2 separate regions of the Homo sapiens genome follow, and region 2 is linked to region 1. Evidence: fine-mapped expression QTL. Tissue or cell type: whole blood. Region 1 holds a variant in brackets; the other region holds the start of a gene. All regions are shown on one strand. Distances are from middle to middle.

The links. PIP is the estimated chance that this variant, and not a neighbour inherited with it, causes the effect. A credible set is the group of variants that fine-mapping cannot tell apart.
Region 2: TMA7B starts here. The variant in region 1 is the best candidate, but not a certain one, in a credible set for the expression of TMA7B in whole blood (TOPMed, PIP 0.76).

The regions. Positions count from the first base shown.
Region 1 is chr22:39,926,740-39,934,905 of GRCh38, reverse strand. The region is part of intron 1 of GRAP2 (GRB2 related adaptor protein 2); the gene reads right to left. Among named protein-coding and RNA genes, the nearest start is that of TMA7B, 30 kb to the left of the region's middle. RefSeq lists an enhancer at 1,330-1,994. The variant C/T (reference allele first, on the strand shown) is at 3,697.
Region 2 is chr22:39,956,737-39,964,902 of GRCh38, reverse strand. It overlaps TMA7B (translation machinery associated 7 homolog B), which reads right to left and starts at 4,506. Exons shown (of 2, transcript NM_001396013.1): 1 at 3,984-4,506; 2 at 1-983. The coding sequence starts at 528. The coding sequence ends at 334. GRAP2 (GRB2 related adaptor protein 2) reads right to left here. Exons shown (of 8, transcript NM_004810.4): 4 at 4,729-4,848. RefSeq lists enhancers at 5,359-5,860, 7,653-7,712.

The DNA.
Region 1 (8,166 bases):
TGTTGGCTGGTTTTTTGTTTTCTTTTGTTTTTTTTTAGATAGGGTCTTGTTCTGTTGCCCAGGCTGGAGTGCAGTGGCGTGATCATGGGTCACTGTAGCCTTGACCTCCGGGGCTTTAGGCATCCTCCTGCCTCAGCTTCCCGAGTAGCTGGGGCTACAATCGTGTGCCCCCACACCCCGCTGCTGTTTGGGAATTAAGCAACAATAACTACAACAAAAGCCCGGGTGCTTCCCAACATGAAGATGGTCAAGCTGGACCTCTCCACCTCTGCAACGGGTTTCTTGAAACCAAAATGCAGGGCTTCACATTTAACCTTTCTGACTTTCACTGTGTTTTTGTTCTCCCCCTTTGGCCAATTTCTCAGCCTATCACAATTCATTCGGGCATGGATTTGTACTCCTAACCCTCTGGTTATATCTTTCAACTCTTCTTTCATAAGTGAACTTCATGCCTTTTTGGTTTTTGTTTTATAATAAATGGAAAATGGACTTTTGAATCAGGTAGGGCTGGGTTCAAATCCTGGCTCCTTCATTCATGCAAGTTGGTTATCTTTGAACTCAGTTTCTTTACCTAAAGACCTCCTCCAGGTTGTCATTGACCACCCTTTAATCAACACTCTGAGTATCAACTTGAAACCTACCCAGTTAAGTAGTTATCCTTCAGCCTATCTGTCCTCATTCTGCTCTGTAGGGTGTCATGCAAAGCCTGGCTGAAATCAAGCTGTGCCGTGCCTGTGGCCCTTTTCTTATATGTCACTCTAATAACCCCACAGGAAAAAGAAAGAAACCGTAACAGGGTCAACTCTTCCTTCAGGGCCATATTTGGGGAGATGCCAAGTGGAAGAAACTCATCTTTTCACTTACTGTCCCTCTTCGGCAATTGCTTTTCCGCTTTCCTCGACCTCTTTTGCAAGCCATAGACTTTCCTTTTGTGAGGCAGCTGTCACCTTAGCTACTGTGTTCCTGTTCCTCCTCCACCCTATTCTCCTTGCTTGACAGAGCAAAGGCCCCTGTGTGTTGAAGCTTTTGACACACAACTTTCTTTCTTTTCTTTTTTTTTTTTTCGAGACAGGGTCTCGCTCTGTTGCTCAGGTTGGAGTGCAGTGGCGCAATCTTGGCTCACTGAAACATTCGCCTCCCAGGCTCAAGAGATTCTCCTGCCTCAGCCTCCTGAGGAGCTGGGATTACAGGTGCCCGCCACCACGCCTGGCTAATTTTTGTATTTTTACTAGAGATGGAGTTTCACCATGTTGGCCAGGCTCATCTTGAATTCCTGACCTCTAATGATCCACCTGCCTTGGCCTCCGAAAGTGCTGGAATTACAGACGTGAGCCACCATACCCGGCCTTGACACACAACTTTCTGAGGGTCATTTTTTCCATTTAGAATTTGTTAATGTCATGTTTGTCACATGACCTCCCAGATCCACTCAAGTCTCTCTTGTCATTTCAGGCCTTCAACAATCTTTCCCCATCCTGTCTGTCAAAATTAACTTTAGAAAATCACCTGCACCATGCAAACATGCTTTAGTAAATAGCTTCCCTTTGTTCTCTAAGCACTCCATCGACATCCTTGTCTCTGCACTGGTCTTCCTTCTCCCATCAAACTCACATTGCTATGTATGGTTGTGCAGGTTGCTCACTGCATAAAGGCCTCAGGCTGAGGTTGCAGTAAGGGCTGAAATGCATCCAGTGCGCTTCTCATCAAGCTGTGAGTCCCAGTATGGGGCTGCATCTGTTTAGAACTAGCACATTCTTCTTACTTAAACAAAGGCACCGGGTCTAATTTCAACTGCTCCTTTAAAGCTTTACTCAGGGCCTGCCCCCCTCATACCCCATGGTCTCACTTTCTCTTATTCTTCCAGGGGACTTGAAGTTATCTACCCCTTGCTCAGTGCTGCCGCCATCTGGGTAAGGTAGGCAAGCACATGAGCCTTGGAGTCAGGCTGCCAGCATTCAAACCCTTCTCTACTACTAGTTTTCTGAGTGACCCTTAGCAAGTTATTTAACATCTCTGAGCCTCAGTTTCCTCATTTTAAAAACAGGGATGATAATAGTGCCTGCCTCATAATGTTCTTGGGAAGAATATGTGGAATATCCATCTAATCCACTTAGTATGGTGTCTGGCACATAGTAGGCACTCAATAATTCAATAGTTGTTAGCTATTGCTACTTTTTTTTTTTTTTTTTGAGACAGGTATCATTCTGTGGCCCAGGCTGGAGTGCAGTGAGGCAATCAGGGCTCACTGCAGCCTCCAACTCCCAGGTTCAAGTGATTCTCCTGTCTCAGCCTCCCAAATAGCTGGGACTACAGGTGCATGCCACCACATCCAGCTTTTTTTTTTTTTTTTTTTTTTTGTAGAGACAGGGGTCTCCCTATGTTGCTCAGGCTGATCTTGAACTCCTGGCCTCAAGTGATCCTCCTGCCTCAGCCTCCCAAAGTGCTGGGATTAAAGGCATGAGCCACTGTGCCCAGCCAGCTATTGTCACTTTTATGCATAGTCCTTAATAGCTAACAACTATTAAGACATGTTGTGGCTCGCAGGAAGTATGAATAAGAAAATGTACACCTCACCAAGTAGGGTTGTCAGATAAAATACAGAATGCCCAGCTAAAGTTAATTTTCAGATAAGCAACCAATAGTTGTTTTAGTATATGTATATCCCAAATCTTTACTTTCTCCACAGAAATCTCAAAGTGGTGGACTGAAGCATTGTTAAGAAGAATAGCAAGGACTCGTTTGATCTTTTCACCCTTTCATCTCGAATTTCCCTGCTGCCCCTCACCTCATGCAACGCCTGTCCCACAAGATTTCTTACATGAAAACCGGGGAGTGGGCTAGCCTTTGGGATAAGCAGTATGAAGGTTCTAGAATGAAGCCTTTAGATGTTCTAGTGAAGGTTGTGGTTTGGAATAGAAGTATATAATCTCACTCATATATCCTGTGAGCCACAAAATGTTGTACCTTCTGTTTTCTCTACCTTTCTTGTGTTATTTGCTGCTTTTAATATTGTGTGGGTCAAAAGGCATGCTTTTACCATTATATATTATGGAATACTGTGTGTTTTGATAAATAAGTTTTATATATTGGAATTTCTGTTCTTATAAGGGAATTTTTCTTGAAGTCCGTATTTGTGGTAAAGCAGAAATCTTCTAAACTCTCTTACATATTCAGACATTTCTCTTGTGATTACTCTGGCATTTTACATTGTTACTCTCAAATTCGCCATCTACTTTCTCATGCCTATAACTCGTCAAATTTTTCCATGCTTGGCATCTGCACCACAGCAAAAAATTTCCTGGGCACCAGCCCCAGTAAATTATTACTAGTCCCATCGTGTAGTCATCAGGTTGACATTTACTTGTACCACCCATGTATCTAGTCCTGATGACAAATAATCCTTGAATTGGCTTATAATACCCCATCCTTTCTTTATATGATTTGCACCATCCTAGAACCTTGTCTCTTCCTGGAACCATTTCAGAGGAAGTTACAAAACCACCAACAGTACCAAATGTGGTTCTGTTGTTTGAATGATCTTCTCTCTTTAATAGCCTTTCATTTCAAGTCCTCCATTACTGACTCCTTGCACAGATTCTTCTCTCTCCTTCCTCTCTCTGTACTTCCAGGAATTGGTGATTTCTATCCAGGTTCGTTTTCAGATTTTCTGCTGCTTAACTTCACAAGGCTGTCTTG[C/T]CCACCTTCTCTCTCTCAGGAGTATCCATATGCTTTGTGTATTCGTTCAACAAACATTTCCTGTGCCCCACTCTGTGTCAAGCCCTGTGTAGAGCATGAAGATCCAGTGTGGACTAGACAGCCCATCTTAAGACCTCAGACAGTTCAGTCTTGTAGGAAAAACAAGTCAGCCAAACCAGTGAGATCAGCATGATAAAGGAACCACACCTCAAGTGGTTCAGGAACCCAAAGGGCAGGCTCCTAATCTAGCCTAGGACGGAGACAGGTGCAGGAGGGATTAGTGGAAGCTTCCCAAATGAGGTGACAATTGAACTGAGTCTTGCAGACAAGTAGCTAGGCAGAGTAGAGAGCTCATATATGACACACAGAGAGAATGGTGTGTGCAAATAGGAGTTGGGGACCCAACTGGTTCAATCATGGACTGGCAGGAGATGGGATCAGTGATTGGACTGGGGGCAGATCATGGAGGACATTGAAAGCATGCCAGGGACTTAGGACTTCATACCAAGGATGATGGGAAGTCATTGGACATTTGAAAACATTTGCATTCAGGAATGTTTAATCAGATGGCAGTATGAAGGAATGGAGGGCAGGGTGAACCGAAGATGGAGAAAGCATCGCAGTAGTCTTGGCTAGTAATGATGAGGGCCTGAACTACAACAGTGACAGATCATGCTCTTTCTTTTGACACTGGGTCTTTCCACATGTTTTTATCTCCATAGTAAGTACTTTACACATTATCTCATTTAAAGCATGCAAGAATCTCAAAATAAGAACTGCTATTGTATCCAGCTGACAGATGAGGAAAGTGAAGCTCAAAGGGGTTAAATAATCACCCAAGTTCATATGTATCAAAAAATGGTGGAGCCAGGATTCAAACTCAGCCTGTGCACTTAAACAGTATTCTCCCTTGTCTTAACTCAAGGGAATCACTGTGAATTATGACCAGTTGGAAGGGGGCTAAAAGACAGAAAAGAGTCTAGAATGGTGTTATCCAATAGAAATAGAATGCAAGTCACAAATGCCAGCCATTATGCCATTTTAAATATTTTGGTGGCACTTTAAAAAGTAAAAGAAAATTATTTTTAATAACTTATTTAACCCAATATGTCCAAAATATTATCATTTCAATTTGAAATCAATATAAAATATTATTGAGATACTTTGCATTATTTTTTCCAAACTAAGTCTTTGAAATCTGGTGTGTATTTTACACTTACAGCACATTTCAATTTGGACAAGCCACATTGAAGTACTTGGGACAGCATAGGTCTAGAACGACTCTTGAGTTCCTGCTGGGGGCATTAGGGTAGATGTTGGTAGCATTTTCTGAGATAAGGGAATACAGAAAGAGGAGATAATTAAAGGGGTGTTTGAAATGCTTGTGAATGATCTATGTAGAGACTCCCAGTCAAGGATTGGCTATGCAGGTATAGAACTCAATAAAAAAGTCTGGGTAGAGCTATTAATTTGGGTGCTATTCCAATATAGATGATTGTGAAAACCCTGAGTAAGAAGGAATTCACCTAGAGAGATTATGTAGCAGGACTGAACCTTTGGAGACAGCAGGGAGGGATGGGACACCTTGGTCATGCGGAGGAGTTCATTTGTTCAGCAGGAGACGCATCTCCCCTTTGAATGGGAAAGAAGGAGGACAAAGATGCAGAAGGTAAGTTTGTATAGGTAAGGAGGGTGAGGAGAGGCAGGAAGTAGGTGGCTTTCTAATATAATGTTGGCAGGGATTCTCAGCTCATTCTATTATCTTTCTTCTCTTCCACAGAAAAGGGAATGCTAGCTTTTAACCATGACTATTCACAAAATCTATACAAAGAGGCAAACAAAATGTAAATATTTGTCCAGCCAGGGACATAAGCCAAGATGAACACTCCTTTTTCATGTCACTCCACTCATTCCCTCCTCTCTCTCTCTCTTTCTCTCTTTCCCTCTGTCTCTCAGGAAATTGCAAAAATAGTACAGAGGTCCCCTGTACTCTTCACCCCACTTCCCCTAATGGGGACATCTTACATCACCATAGTACAGTATCAAAGCTAGGAAACTGATATTGCTACAATACCATTAAAAAGACTTCCATCTTCTCTTTTACAACTTCCTAGCAGGAAGTATCCTTAGTAAAAAACATAAAAATCTGTGAGATGTAATGTTCAACCAGGCCAAGAGCTTTATGTGTGTTCAGGAGGTTTTATCTCTGTAACTAAATGACATGCATCAAATACCACACCAAATGCCACCTAAATGCTCAGGTAAAAATTACCTTCTTATGACCATATATAATTTGCACCAACGTTATGTGGTTAGACCAGGCTCTTCACTGTCTGTTTGGCTTTATCTCATTATGGAGAAGAGCAAAGATGAACAGACAGCTCTGTTGTTCCCATCAGCATCTATAATGAGGAATGTGTGACTCAAAAGAGAGCAGCAACGTGCCCAAGCCTGCACTACTGTACAAACCAGGTCTTGCTAACTTTAGAACTCATGTTCGGTTTATGACATCGCACTATCTCTTGGTAAATGGCTACTTCATACCCCTGTCTACACAGCAGGAAAACCAATGGATTAGGAGGGAGTTAGTATTCAGATGGGTGACTCCAATTCAACTTTCAAGTGGGGAGGAACCCATAGCACCCAACACAGTAGGCTCCTCCATAAATGCCAGGGATTTAATCAATTCAGCTTACTAAACAAACAGACTCAAATAAGTTGGGCACGTTCCTTAAAAGCAGAATCAAGCAAAGAAAGCTCTGAGAAATCTCTGTGCTTCAAGGAGACAAAAGCCAACGAGAGAATATTAAGCCAACTTGAAGGGAATAGTGGCTATCCATCTGCCTCTGCCATGGTTCAACCAAGGTGAATAACCCATTTATTAGCAAAGAATGAGAGAAGTCCCAGTATTTTCATGTAAGTGGTAATTTGTTAATGGGTAAACATGGAATGAATTTCTTTCTCCCTTGGAGATAAATGAGCTCTGGTTCTCAAAAAACAATATTTCTGGCAAGAGATAGAAGACAAAAAAAAAGAGGTGTTTCATCCATTAAGATTTGGAAAGCAAAGGAAATAAGTGTATTTCTGGAATCTGGGTGAAAGGAGTTTGGCCTCGACAATTTCTGAGCAGCCGAAGGAGGAAAATGGTCGCAGAAAGAGGCAGGAACATGGGTGGTCAGATGCCTTTAGGGACAGTGATCTCTCTAATGACATTTCTCCCATCTGGGCTCCCTATTTATTTGTGGACCTGCACCTTCCTACTTACATCTCCACTTGTGGTATCCATAGTACCAGTAAGAAAATAGTTTTTGTCAAATCCAGGAAGGCAGGCCTGAGAGCAATTTGCAGCTGTGAAGACAAACTATAGGATGAAGGAGACAGAAGGACAGGGTCCCCTTACCCTGTTGTAGCCATTGGGAAGGGGCCTCAGCCCTCAAGTGGTGAGACAGGGCAGCACACGGGGGATGGTGGAAAAGAGCCGAAATGAACTTGGCCCCGGAAATGGCCATTATCAAGTAGTCATGGGTGAGAGGAAAAAAAAAAGTCATGCCTTAGATCGATTGGGCCTGGATGGACCAAGGTTGAAATCCAGCCATGAGATCAGTTTTGTTTACCTCTCCCGATGCGATTAGGCCATTCATATCCGATCCTGACCATTTGTTTGAGGAAGAAAAGATGCAGCCTGCATTTTGAAATCTGGGCAGATGCTTAAAAAGACCTTGCTCTCCATTCAGACAACAGGAATGCCACCAGATGTGACTTAAACATGTCTGCTTTTCAGCTGTTTAAATGTGAGCAATTCCTCCCGTCACTAGCCCACTGCAAGGGACTGTTTTTTCAGGGTCTTTCAATCCCAGGGCTGATTCACATCACAGGTATTCCCAAAAAGCTCCACAAATCAACAATGAAATAAACCCAATGCCAGACCAACTTGCACATGCCGGCGGGCCGAGAGGATGGGAGGTCCAGTCAGGGCACTGTGCCTCACCATCACTTTCCACTACAGAGAAGGTAAGTGGGGATAGCATGGCCGGGGGGGCAGAATTAAAACGTGATCAACGTGGCATCTGCTTTTTCTTCTCTTTTCAGCTCTCACAGAAGTGAGCATGAAAAAAAGAGAAGAAGAGGGGAGGAAAAATGAGAAGAGACAAGTTTCTCTCTGGGAGAAGCAATTCTAGTCCTGAATTCTCAACTGTGCATTCCACCTCAGAAAGCCAGTGACCGCCTCTGCTGAGCACAGGGTGACAAACTGGGCTGGATCCAGGCTGGAGCCAGGCAGTGGGTGGCAGCTTCTGCCTCAATCTTTCTGCAGTCTCCCTTCCCCATTCCAATCACGATAAATATATTTATACTTACTTGATTATGTCAGCCAGACAATACTCCCCTAATTGGCAGTGATCAGGGTTCCAGAATTGTTTGGGCGAACCTGCTGTCTCTCTATCAGGCAAAGCGATAAGGGGCCGCTAATGC
Region 2 (8,166 bases), 30 kb before region 1:
TTTCTTTCAAATGAGTTGGTTTAATTTCAGGTGATACAAAGTTTAGGGTAGAACAACGACCAAAGAGCAGATTCTGGCAAGATTCTGAGCTGGTTTTACTTTAAATTCACAGTTATGGTAGGAATGACTTAGTGAAAACAACTAAAGAGATGATGAGCCACTGGAAGATTTTTTTTTTTTTTTTTTTACAAAAGTTTATTCTTAAATGTACAACAGCTCCAAGACGACACTTAATTCCAACTATAGGTGGCAAAAGATATTATAGGAGGGAATAGAGAGGTTTAAATACGGATGAAATAAAGGGTCACCGTCTCCTTAGGCACAAGGAACAGCTTATTTTTTGCCAGATTTCTTAATTCCACCTGTGGCCAGAGGCCCCTTCCCCACGACCTTCGCTTTTAGCACCTCGAGTTTCTTCTGCTCCTCTTTTTGTTTCTGCTTGAAAGCCTTCTCTTCCTCGTCCATCTCCTTGGCCTGCTTCTTGGGCTGTTTCAGTGCCTTCTTCTTGCCACCTTCGTGGCTGGACATGGCGCCTGCCGCCCCTTCCCCAGACCCTGCCACTGGACGATAACTTCTTTTAGATCAGCACCTTTTGTTGCCAGTCTGGACTCACAAGTGATGGGACACATTCGAACCAGGGCTAGAGAAAATGGATTTTATCCATCTAGGAAGGGTGGGCTGAGCCTTTACCATTAGATCCAGTTTTACTTCATTGCCAAGTCATTCTCTTTTGGATGTAAAGTTTATTTTTCAAACAGACATACATTTATATCTAAAAATAAACTGGCACTAGTGATGCCAATTGCCTGATGTAAAAGAAAGGTCAAGAATTTTAAAGGGTCTCGGAGAGTAAAGATACCTCTGAGAGTAAGTGGAGGTTTCTTTTTGAGTCAGAGTCTCGCTCTGTCGCCCAGGCTGGAGTGCAGTGGCGTGATCTCTGCTCACTGCAAGCACCACCTCCCAGGTTCATGCCATTCTCCTGCCTCAGCCTCCCAAGTAGCTGGGACTACAGGCGCCCGCCACCACGCCCGGCTAAGTTTTGTATTTTTAGTAGAGACGGGGTTTCATCGTGTTAGACAGGATGGTCTCGATCTCCTGACCTCATGATCCGCCCACCTCAGCCTCCCAAAGTGCTGGGATTACAGGCGTGAGCCACTGCGCCTGACCATGGAGGTTTCTTAGGGATGGATTTAGGGACCTGTGTTAAGAAGGAGATGGAAATTCTGACCCTCAATCTCATCTTATGTGCTGGGATTTGCTCATAGCTGGGTGAAGCCACAGGTTGTACAAGTGGCCTCTTGCTTGACTGATTTCGGGTGGTAATCAACATATTGCAATCACTTTGTGGTCTTCCCCTTGGTTTTGGCCACCAACAGATACTTTCTTCATTCTAAGACAACATGGATCAACTCAAAGTCATTATCCTTCACATCCAGGTGAGGAGGAGAAAATATTCTTGTGATATTATAATTTTTCATCCACCACCTCAAAGAACTCAGAGTGTGAAACATTGACCCTTTTACTCTCATAAGCTGTAAGGATGGGTGTGAGGGTTGCAGCTGGTTATCTGGGTCTACAAGGAGAGGATGGCCTGACCATTGTCTCAAGCCTGAAGAGGAACAAAGGAAAGGATGCGACTCAGGGCGCTGGACTCCAAAATCTGGTGTTTCAGGCCCTTAACAAATGCTGAGTGATAGAACTACAATTAGCTCTTAATTATCTGTGCCCATGACAGATGTAAAAATAATTAATAATGATTTTGCTTTGGAAAATATTATACTACATTTCTGCAAAGACGTGATAAGGATTACGGTAATTGTCACCATAACTAGAAGCTTCATCGCCTGAATATCAGGGGAAGACTTCGGTAGAAGTCAAGGCCTACTGTTTTGTAGAACTCACTTTAATTAAGGAAATATAAACCATAGTTCTGGGTCCGGGCACAGTGGGTCGCGCCTGTAATCCTAGCACTTTGGGAGGCTGAGGCGGGTGGATTACATGAGGCCAGGAGTTCAAGACCAGCCTGGCCAACATGACGAAACCCCGTCTCTACTGAAAAAAACCACACACACACAAATTAGCCAGGCGTGGTGGTGCGAACCCATGGTCCCAGCTACTCAGGAGGCCAAGGCACGAGAATTGCTTTGAACCTGGGAGGCGGAGGTTGCAGGGAGCCGAGATTGCGCCACTGCACTCCAGCCTGGGCGACAGAGCGAGAGTCTGTCTCAAAAAACCAACGAAACCACAAAAACCATAGTTTCTAGCTGAAAAAGCCAGAGTCATCTTCATGCAAACCAAAGGCCCAAGAGATACCCCTCAGTCTAACAAATTACTTGGTCAAGTTTATGATGGGGTAAAGAGGGGAGGCTTAAGAAATAGATTTGACTTGTAATATATATACACGCATGTTAAATATATGTATAATTGTTTTTTCTAATAATATATGTATATAATATATGTAAATAATTTTTTTCTCTTGAGACAGGGTCTTGCTCTGTCACCCAGGCTAGAGTGCAGTGGTGCGATCGATCTTGGCTCACTGCAACCTCAACCGCCCAGCTCCAACAATCCTTTAACTTCAGCCTCCCAAGTAGTTGGGACCACAGGCATGCGCCACTGCACTGGGTTAATTTTTTATTTTTAGTAGAGATGAGGTCTCACTAGTTGCCCCGGCTGGTCTCCAACTCCTTGGCTTAAAGCATTCCTCCCAACTCAGCCTCCCAAAGTGCTGGGATTAGAGGCATGAGCCACGGCGCCCGACCCTGACTTGTAATATATGTTAATGGAGCGAAATTTCATTAATTAAGACCTAACAAGATTAGAATTTGTGATACATCAATATTGGCCTGAACTAAAGTTAACCATTCTCCAAGCTATGAAAATAAAGTTTTTACTGAAGAAAAGAGTTTAAGCAAGATTGCAAGGGCAATGCTAAAGAGACCACTTTAAAGGTATGTATGCATACAAATTGTTGACCTGTTATTTTTAAGTCCTTCCTACCTATCCTTTCAAATATCCATTCTTTCTAAACAGCAAAGTGGCCACAGTTTATTACTTGAGATTGGATTTCTGTCCTTAAAACAAAGCTTTATGCCTTTCAAAATATATTGAATAAACCAGATCGGTATTTCCTGCCAATAACTTGACAGTAAGGTTTTGCTGTACTTCTCCTGATCTGCTAACAGCATTATATTCTTGCAGTTTCACATGTGGTGAAGTCTGATACGTGACTTGCGATCCTCAACATGCTGACCACACACAGTGTGTTCCGAACTGGGCTTCTGAGTTTGGGGCTGTGTAATGTCTACGCGTGGACTGAGTCACTTCCTATGGGTTGCTGCACCTTAGTGAGATTTCGCTGTTACAGTCCTCCCCCACTCCTGGCCCTCTGTTCTGTGGTTTTCGGTCTTGCTGTACTGTACTGTGTTGAAGTAGCCTTTCTTTTTGTTCAGCTGCCTACAACTATACATGTATTTGTTGGGGCTCAGAAAACGACACCCCTTGGCATGCTGAGTGCTTCGAACCAAAGGAGATGGGAAGGTTTCAGAAGCAGCCTTGGAAGCAAAGTCTTCCTTTGGCCTTCTCCTGCCCTCCTGTCTCCCGCTCCTCTTTCTCCCCCTGAGTGAGTCATAGAAATTAGAATTCCTCTTCCCCACAGTGGGTCAGAGAGACTAGAAGGGTCACTATGGGGGAGGCCAAGGCAGGAGGATTACTCGAGGCCAGGAGTTTGAGATCAGCCCAGGCAACACAGTAAGACCTAGTCTCTACAAAGAAATAAGTTAAAAAAATATTAGCCAGGTGTGGTGGTGTGCACCTGTATCCCCAGCTACTTGAGAGGCTGAGGTGGGAAGATGGCTTGAGCCTGGGACACAGAGGCTGTGGTGAGCAATGATTGCGTCACTGCACTCCAGCCTGGGCAACAGCTGTCTCCAAAAAAAAAAAAAAAAAAGAAGACTTGGGACAGGCCTTGTTCAGTTTCCTACCTCAGTCTGTTACCTTAGATCAAACCCCCTTTGTCCAATCCCATTTCTACAGGGCTGTCTGTCCTTTGACAAACCTAAGCATAAAAATAGACGGCTTTCCCTGGGTCTTGGGTCTTCATTTCTGAAGGCTTCTGTGTCACACAAGTCTTTGATTAAATAAATGTGTCCACTCTCCTCTTGTTAACCTGTCTTGTAGGAGTGTCAGCTGTGACTCCTCTGATGGGCAAAGAAAGGTGCCACAACTTTTCCGCCCCTGTATATCCTACAGCAGTGACTTGAGATTTCTATTTTTCTCTGACTCTTCTTCAGATATGCATCAATCATAAAAGAAAAGGTTAAGATTTAAACCCCCAGATGGATCTGGACAAGTGGGAGTTCTCCTCCTCCTATCCCTCCTTCCTTCCACAAATACTCACTGAGTGTCTCTCTTTTATGCAAGACACTGTTAAAGGCATAAAGATGAAGTAGAGGAAAATCCTGCCCTTCCAGAAGCACCTGGGCTAGAAGGGGAGGCAGATGGGCGTAGAAATAATTTCAAACACACACCAGTGTTCTAAAGAGTGGTGTGTGCATGTTTTGGGAAGGCACTGGGAGCAGCAGGTTGTGAAGCTGCTGCCATGCTTGGCCCCTAGGCCACCATGCTTCTGACCATTGGGTCATATTCCAGAGGTCCCTTCATGGCTTCAGCATTCTGTGAGGTTAACAGGCCGAGAAGGGCCAAGGCAGTGTCAGGAATGGTCAGTACCTGACAGAGATGGAGAAGTCCCCTGGGGAGCTCTGGCTGGCCCGGATGATGAAGAAGCCAACCTCCTTGCCCATGAGTAAGTTCTCTGCCTGGTGTCGAGAGAGGCCTTCGTGAAACCATCTGTGGGGGCGAGATCAAACAAAAGGATCAGGATGAGACACAGGAGTGACAAGAGGGAGACGTGGAGAAGAGGTGACCCAGAGGGAAAGAGGCTGGGGACTCTGTACAGTAGGGAGCAGAGAGAGACCAGGTGCTGTTTGAAATCAAACCAGTGCTCCAGGCAGCTTTCAGGAAAGGCGAGGGAGCATTCCCCTTGATTCACCCTCTTTGTTCCTTCTCTCCAGGAGAAGTCTCTCTCCAGCCTGGGAAACGAATCATGGAAATGTGTCGCTGCACCAAAATGGGGCAGTGTGGGAGTGACTCACTGCAGGAAGCAGCCGCCTGCCGGCAGCTGCGGAAGAGATAGACCAGAGCTGCGAGGACAGAGGATGCACTGGGGAGGGAAGGGAAGGCTTCAGGCACTGGAGCCAACCAGGTGCAGCCGGCTGAGCAGGGCCTGGGGTGCTCATGCCTGCCCTGAGGTCTCAGTGGCCTAGAGGTTCCTCCCTGGGTATTAAAGGAAAGTTACAGCCCAGGGCGTCACGTTACCTAGGCTGGCATGGAGCACAAGGGGGCTTTGCTCAGTGTGCCTAGCAGAGGCTGCAGTGTTCCTAGGGAGTCCAGTGTACATGCTTGGAAATCAGCGAGGCTGGCAGCCGCCAGAGAGCGGCGTCTATACAACCAGATCCTGGGCCTGCCCCAAAAATCCAGGCTGGGAAATAATCTTTACTGTGGAAAAGAAGAAACAGGAGAAATTACTCTTTTAGCAGAATGGTCAGGGTGGCAGCCCCTGGAGGTACAGCTGCATACAGCGTGGCATGTATGAAATAGGTCAAACACTTACACAGGGCCAGGCAAGCTGTGGCTGCAGCCTCAAAGCAGGAGGCCAGAGACCTCTCTCCACCACAGACAAGCAAAATGAGTGTCTGCAATCACTCAGCGGCCAAAGGTGGGACTGTGTCACATTGCTTCAAGGTGGCTGCTCTAATTGCTGTCACCAGAAGGCTCATACGCATGTTCCTTTAAGATAAAAGCCCGTCAGGCCTTGGCTTTGGATTCCTTTGTGAGCAATTCTCTGTGCTTTCTAGAATTTGGGAAACTGAGACATAGGTAGCAGGAAGGATGTACTTACTGGAGACTGAGTCCCCCACTGGGACTGAGGGGGAAGTTTGGCTGTGCTCTGAGAGGGCTGAAAGCAGCAGTTTCTGGTGGCCTGGAGATTCTGCCTGAGTATTTGCCACACAATTCTACAGGGCTAAACAAGAGGCCACCACACACACCACTGCCACGTGTGGGAAATGTAATGGGGATGGGAAGAGGAATGGAGTATGCACCACAGCAGCCATATCGCAAAGGAAACATTTCAGAAGTGAAGGGGATTTAGGAAATACACATTTGTCCTCTGACTGCAATCTGATAGGGGGCTTCTTTAAAGATTTGTAAAAATCACCACACATTGCATATTAGACATGAGTGGTCATGGTTTCAATAATACATATTCGTTCGTTCATTCATTCATTCATTCATTCAACAGCTTTACTGAACATCTAGTACTGTGCTGGGCCCCTCCTGGGCACTGGGGACACAGTAGTGGGCAGAACAGACACACACCCCTGCCCTCAGGGAGCTTACATTCTAGTCGAGGGGGACACACACAAAAGAACAAAATAATTAAGATCTGAAGCGTGCCAGATGATGGTAAGTGCTGTGGAGAACATGAAAACTGAGAGGAGAGATGGGGCGCTGTGGGTGGGAGATTAATGTAAGGTATGGTGATGAGAAAGACCTCACTGAAAAGGAGACATTCTAAACCTATAGGGGACTGGGGAGTGGGAGGAACCAACACAAGAGACTGAGGAGGAGAAGCCAGGGCAGTGGGAGGACAACCGGAGGAAGGACGTCCTGGAGCCAAAATGAAAGAGGTGTTCCAGTGGGAGGGGGGATCCCCAGGGCAGGTCATGCTGAGATGACCCCTGGGAGCTACAGCCCATGGGGAGCCTGGTGGGAAGGGTCGGGAGATGAGGAGTTGGAAGTAGCAAATGCACACACTCCTTTTGAAGAGATGGAGTGGCAAGTGGAAGGGGATTTGGGATTAAGAATTTTCTTGATTTATTTATTTATTTAAATTTTTTTTTTCTTTGAAACAGAGTCTCTCTCTGCTGCCCAGGCTGGAGTGCAGTGATATAATCATGGTCCACCACAGCCTTGAACTCCCAGGCTCAAGCGATCCTCCTGCCTCAGCCTCCCAAGCAGCTGGGACTATAGGCGCATGCCACCACGACCAGCTAATTTTTAAAAATTTTTTGTAGAGATGGGGCTCGCTATGTTGCCCAGGCTGGTCTCAAACTCCTAGCCACAAGTGATCCTCCTCCCTCAGCCTCTCAAAGGACTGGGATTACAGGCATCAGCCACAACAAAACCCACCTGGCCTCTGGGTTTGGTTTTGTTTGTTTGTGTTTTGGTAAGTTGGGAGAAATTGCAGCGTGTGTGTTTGCTGACAGGAATGATCCAGCAGAGAGGGAAAGGAGGTTGACGTGGAAGAGAGAGAGAGGAGAATTTCTGCTAGAAGCAGTGACAGTTCCTTCCAGCCAGCTGCAGGAAAGGCCGACTGTTTGAGCACACTTGCAGGAGGCAGGTGGATGCGGTGGGGGAGGGGGGTCTGGGAGCTTCACTTCTGGTGGCTTTCATTGTTCCAGAGAACCTGGAATCAAGGTCACGGGCTAAGAGTGATGCACGGAGGGGCTGAAGGTTTGAGGAGCACGTGGGGTATGCAGAGGTCACCTAGCAGATTCCTGGGCAGCATCAAGGGTTCCGTCAAGGTCAGTGGTCATTCTCTTGGTTTGGTGGTCAGTTCAGGTTTACCAAGACTGGTGCTCTTGCACCTTGCTGGAGTCACCAATACTACTGTGGTTTTCTAACAAGCTTTTGCTCTTTGAGCTAGACCCTGGTTCTGAGGCAAGATTAGATTTCTATCTAACCCTTGTGGTCAATTCTTGAGACAAACGAAGCCCAATCTCAATTTTTCATTTCCTCTTTAGGAAGAGAATTTCCCCTTCCCCCCGCTGACTTCTCTCATTGGGGTGAGCATGCTTTACTGAAGGCAGGGAGTGTCTGTCCACCCACTGAGTGAAGGGTGAGAGCCTGGTGAGGATGGTTAGGATTAGGAGGTCACAGAGAAGCGCTTAGGAGAGCAGCTCCCGAAGTGGGGTGGCCAATAGCGTCCCCTTTGGAATTCTGGGGAACGCCGTGATTGAAATCACTATAGATAATTTGAGTTTACAAACTCATTTTATAAAAACTTAAAATAGGCCGGGTGCAGTGGCTCACACCTGTAATCCC